Regions from separate parts of the Homo sapiens genome. Here region 1 is linked to region 2. Evidence: fine-mapped expression QTL. A gene starts in region 2. The other region holds a variant in brackets. All regions are shown on one strand. Distances are between the middles of the regions.

Evidence for each region. PIP is the estimated chance that this variant, and not a neighbour inherited with it, causes the effect. A credible set is the group of variants that fine-mapping cannot tell apart.
Region 1: its variant is the best candidate, but not a certain one, in a credible set for the expression of ZNF12 in whole blood (INTERVAL, PIP 0.64).

What each region holds. Positions count from the first base shown.
Region 1 is chr7:6,629,626-6,632,529 of GRCh38, forward strand. No RefSeq gene overlaps it. Among named protein-coding and RNA genes, the nearest start is that of ZNF316, 6.2 kb to the right of the region's middle. The variant G/A (reference allele first, on the strand shown) is at 1,104.
Region 2 is chr7:6,705,356-6,708,259 of GRCh38, forward strand. It overlaps ZNF12 (zinc finger protein 12), which reads right to left and starts at 1,592. Exons shown (of 5, transcript NM_016265.4): 1 at 1,077-1,592. RefSeq lists a silencer at 1,208-1,567 and an enhancer at 1,261-1,760.

The sequences.
Region 1 (2,904 bases), 76 kb before region 2:
GCCTCCCAGGTTCACGCCATTCTCCTGCCTCAGCCTCCCGAGTAGCTGGGACTACAGGCGCCCGCCACCATGCCCAGCTAATTTTTTGTATTTTTAGTAGAGACGGGGTTTCACCGTGTTAGCCAGGATGGTCTCGATCTCCTGACCTCGTGATCTGCCCACCTTGGCCTCCCAAAGTGCTGGGATTACAGGCGTGAGCCACCACGCCCGGCCCCGACCTCTAATTTTTAAATTTTTTGTAGAGGCGAGGTCTTGCTATGTTGCCCAGACTGGTCTCAAACTCCTGGGCTCAATCAATCCTCTCGCCTCAGCCCCCCACAAAGTGCTGGGATTACAGGCATGAGGCACTGCCCAATAATTCCCAGTAAATGGGAATGATTGTTCAGCAGAAAACTGATCCCTTTGGGAAAGTTAACGTGGGGAGAATGTGGCCTGGCTCTATGGTCCTTGACACCACCGTGAAAGACCAGGTCACCCTCTGCCCATTGCCCTTCCAGAAGAAGCTTGTCCTCCCTGCCCCAGCTCCGAGTCCACCACAGTCTCCCACTCAGGCAGCTGCAAGGCATGCTGGGAGTGAGTGGCCACTGGGGCTGGGGGCTGTCGGGGGCAGAAAGGAGGAGCAGATTCCTCCCTCCTGGCACCTACAAAAGTGTGTCCACCAGACAGGGCTAGATCAAGTCCAGGTCCCCGCAATGGAATGGGAAGGAGCAGGCAGCAGTGGGGTCTCAACTGCCGATGAGGAGGCATGCAGGGCTGGAAACACAGTCTTTCTATTTCCTTGAGCGGCCTTCAGCCTCCCCGGAGCCTCTTCTCCACTCAGCCTTGACCTTTGAGTGTCTGTGCCCGTCTCTGCATTGCCCAGCTGTAGCAAAAATCCTGTCAAGTCAGTTTAGCCAGAATCTCCACCCTTGGTATCTGATCAAATCCCTCCTCTCCCACCACCTGCCAGGTGCCCTCTGATCACTCTTGCCTGCCTTCAGCCAGGATCCTGGGAGTCAGTTCAACCACAACCTCCCACTCCTTCGTATTTTTCCACCCACCCACTCCCCTCCAACCTGCTCCTAGGCTGGAAGTCTCCACTTGTCCCTGCTGTATTCAGAATT[G/A]AGCCCAGTTCTATACTGAGGTCTCTTTTCCCTATTGCAATAGTTCCTGAATAAAATCTGTTTTTTACCGTTTTAACTACTGTCCAGCTTTGTTTTCTTTTTCTTTTTTTTCTTGAGACAGGGTCTCAGTCTGTCGCTCAGGCTAGAGTGCAGTGGCACCATCATAGCTCACTGCAGGCTCACCCTCCCGAGTAGCTGGAACTACAGGCTCGCACCACCATACCTGGCTAATTTTTTCTACTTTTTGTAGAGACGAAGTCTCACTATGTTGCTCAGGCTGTTCTCGAACTCCTGGGCTCAAGTGATCGATCCTCCCACCTTGGCTTCCCAAAGTGCTGGGATTACAGGAATAATATGGTTTGGATCTGTGTCCCCACCCAAATCTCATGTTCAATTGTTATTTATTTATTTTTGGAGACTGAGTCTCCCTCTGTCACCCAGGCTGGAGTGCAATGGTGTGATCTCAGCTCACTGCAACCTCCACCTCCTGGGTTCAAGAGATTCTCCTGCCTCAGCCTCCTGAGTAGCGGGGATTATAGGCACTCGCCACCACTCCTAGCTAATTTTTGTATTTTTAGTAGAGACGGGGTTTCACCAGGTTCGCCAGGCTGGACTCAAACTCCTGACCTCAGGTGATCCACCCACTTTGGCCTCCCAAAGTACCGAGATTACAGGCCTGAGCCACCATTCCTGGCCTCTCAAGTTCAACTGTAATCCCCAGTGTTAGAGGTGGGGCCTGGTGGGAGATGATTGGATTATGGGGGCAATTTCTCATGGTTTGATACCATTCCCCCTGGAGCTGTCACCACGACAGTGAGTTCTTGTGAGATCTAGTTGTTTACAAGTGTGTGGCACCCCTCCCTTCTCTCTCATTCCTCCTGCTGCCACCATTTGAAGTGCTGGCTCCCCCTTCACCTTTTGCCATGACTGTACGTTTCCTGAGGCCTCCCCAGCCATGCTTTCTGTATAGGCTGCAGAGACATGAGCCAGTGAAACCTCTTTTCTTAAATTACCTAGTCTCTGGCAGTTCTTTATAGCAATAGGAGAACCGACTAACACGAAACATGAGTCACCGCTCCCAGCCTCACCTATGGTTTTAATAGCAGCACTACTGCCTTCAGCCCACTCCAGGCACACAGAGGCTCCGTGGGGGCATCCATCAGCATCCTTCTGTGCCAGGCTCCCTGCCAGCCCCTGGTGTGAGAGCTCAGGAGGAGCCCAGGAGGGCTTCCTGCAGGAAGAGACAGCTGAGGAAGTCCCGAGAGCCGAGTGAAGGGGAGCTCTGCCCAGTCAATGTTCAGTCCCTGCAGGTGGGTCTGTGCAGATACGGGGCAGGCCCATGTACTTGAACGGAGATGCTCTCGGCCTCACAGAATTCCAAATGCCCCAGATGCCTGTTAACTTTTCACATACCCTGTGTCCCTGCCAGTGAGACACACGAAGGCTGAAGCATAGAACAAGCTTCATGCCAATCACTGGGTGGGCTGGCACCCTCCTCACTGCCAGCACCCACCGTGGAGGATGGGCAGGAGCCAGGCAGATGACACCCCAGGAACTGTTTCATGAGTATGCTTGGATATTCCCCCAGCCCCAACCCCACCAACTGCTCATAGATAGATGACTGACATGGAATTGTACTAGTGCAAAAAGGGTATGATTTACTTTTTTTTTTTTTTGAGACGGAGTCTCACTCTGTCGCCCATACTGGAGTGCAGGGGCGCGATCTCGGCTCACTGCAACCTCCGCCTCCCGGGTTCAAGCGATTCTCCTGCCTCAGTCTCCTGAGTAGCTGGGATTACAG
Region 2 (2,904 bases):
AAGGGATTGGAAAATGATCAGGAGGGGGACCGATCTGCACATTTGAAACTCACACATGGCTACCTTGTGACTGAGTGGATGAGATTCTCATGGTGAATGAATACTGGATCCTACTGAAATAATCTGCCATCATTAAATGCAAGATTTAAAAAGGAATTCTGGTGACCAGCCTGGCCAACATGGTGAAACCCCATGTCTAGTAAAAATACAAAAATTAGCTGGGCGTGGTGGCGGGCGCCTGTAACCCCAGCTACTCGGGAGGCTGAGGCAGGAGAATCGCTTGAACCCGGGAGGCGGAGGTTGCAGTGAGCTGGGATGGCACCATTGCACTCCAGCCTGGGCAACAAAGCGAAACTTGTCTCAAAAACAAACAAACAAACAAACAAAAAACAAACAACAAAAAATGAATTCTGTAATACTCATCTATTTTCTTACTCTTTTAAATAAAGATCAGAAAATCCACAGGATGCCCTAAATAAAGGAATACAGTCGGCATAATTGAGTCTTTATTTGCAGAAACTTCAGTGTGCTACTCAAAAGGATCTTTTATTGAAGAACTTACGCTCACTTAACTAGGATACGGGGGACAGAACACTGGCCTGGGAGATAAAACTCCAGAGTTCTACTATGAGCAACTCCACCCACAAAACCTCGGACAAGTCACCCACCTGCTAAGGCCCTTCCCCTAGCAAATGAGGCAGCAAGAGATAGTTCCTGCAGGCTGTTCCTGCACTACAACGTATGATTCCACAAGAGCAGACCTAAGGGGGAATCAGCACTTAAATGAGAGAACAGAGGTGCTGACGGACGTTTAGATACGGTAGCAATCTGGAGCAGAGAGAGGAGGAAGGGCTGCTGGGGTGAGGGGGGAGTGGAGACAACGTCCGCAGCTGAGGCTGGTGACACCCCCCACGCCCCCGTAAGCCTCGTCCTCGCCGGACCCTGCCTTCAAACCCAAACACACGTCACTCCTGCAAGCGATCGAGACCTTCCACTGTCCCTCACTCTAAGGTGCCCTACACGCGGTGACTTCACCCAGGCCCTTCTCGCCCCGGGCCCGCAAACCCACGACTTACCCTCCTGGGGCTCCGCAGCCTCTGCCCCACCGCTCCCGACAGGCCGGGGCGGGATTGCTGTCGCGGGCGCGCGTCTGCTCGCGAGGTCCCTTCCTGTCCACCTCACCAAGGCCGTTCTGCTCCAGAGGGGCCCGGGCCGGGCCTACGGGACAAATCCAGGCGGGGCGTCCCTCCCGGAGCCCAGATCCGTCTCCCTGGGGCTCACCGTCCTGCGGAGCCGGGGCCGGGCCGTCGAGGACGCACACGGGCCGGGCCCGGGTCCCGCCGCCCCTTCGCCTCCGCCGTCGTCACCGCCCGGCCGGCCCCTTGGGCCCCAGCGCCGTCGGCTCCGGGGGTCGTGCTCGGGGATCCCCGCTTGAGCCTCCGCCTGGCCCGCACAGCCCCGCGCCCGCTTGGGTGCCGGCCCGGCTCTTCGGCGCCCAGCCCCGCAGGCTCCGCGATTCTCGCCCACCGGAGGCCAAAGCCTGGGAACTAGGGCGAGCGGTGACCTGGGGACGCACAGGAAGCGAGGGCACTGCGGCCGCGGCGCGCATGCGCGAACACGCACACAGAGAGGGGTGCACATGCGCAGGAATGCACCGGAAGTCCGCCTCCCGGGACCCGCCGCCGGTCCCAGGACAAATACCGTGACTCTATTTCCCATGAGCCTACGCGCTCCCCAAATTTAGGAGCCATTTGAAATGTCTCTATCTGGTCTAGCGGTTAAGAGGCTCTATGCTAAGAGAATTGGCAACGCCGAACCCCAGACTCAAATTTCTCCTTAGTTTAAGGGAACGTCTTCATGGGGATGTCTTGACTATCTTTAAGGGAACGTCTAGAAAGTCTCTGCTTCCTGTAGCATCTCGTAGACCATGCCTGGGCCAGTCCTGCCTTACCGGAGAGCTCAAGGCTTAAAATCAATGTCCATGTGCAACCGTGACAAATGGAACAAGAGGGTGCATCATGCTAGCTTATGATCACAATGACACATTTAACGAAAACTTCAGTAAATAGAGCCCATGGATGAAATAATAGAGGATTAGCCTGGGACAGGATACCATCCTCGCCCCAACAAGGAGAAAAAGAATTCCAGCTTTTCCAAATCACTTTGAATTAGTGATAGCTAGAAAACTCAGAGAATATGTACAGAATTGAAAGAAGAAAAAAATTAGCCAGAACTCTACTTCCTGAAGAGGATGAGGCAAGCAGAAGAAGAAATTTGCGTCTTAATGGAAAACGAAGCACATTTAGAAAGCCATGTTACTTGATTCCAACCCTGTTCCTTATCTTTGAGGTATTTTACACCTCTTTGAAAACTGTAGGTAATCGATGCAAGTTATGTTCTGTCTGGTGGAAGTTGGTTGACTTCCCACAATCCCCACTAGAGAAAATGCAGTTTTGACTGCATTTCTCCATTTACATAATCATTTCAATATTCCTGATCTGAAAATATGTCTGTTTCTCAGATTCTCTCTCTCTCTCTCTTTTTTTTTTTAATTTTGAGACAGGGTCTCACTCTGCTGTGCATGCTGGAGTTCAGTGGCGAGATCTTGGCTCACTGGTTCAAGGAATTCTCCTGCCTCAGCCTCCCAAGTAACTGGGATTACAGGTGCACACCACCAAGCCCGACTAATTTTTGAATTTTTAGTAGAGATGGGGGTTTCACCATGTTGGCCAGGCTGGTCTTAAACTCCTGACCTCAAGTGATCCACCCGCCTCAGCCTCCCAAAGTGCTGGGATTACAGGCATGAGCCACCATGTCCAGCCCTCAGATTCTCTTTTGAACCAGTTATAATATCTGCCTGTTTCCTCTTGAATTAAATAAAATCTTTAGCATGTGCTCATTTTT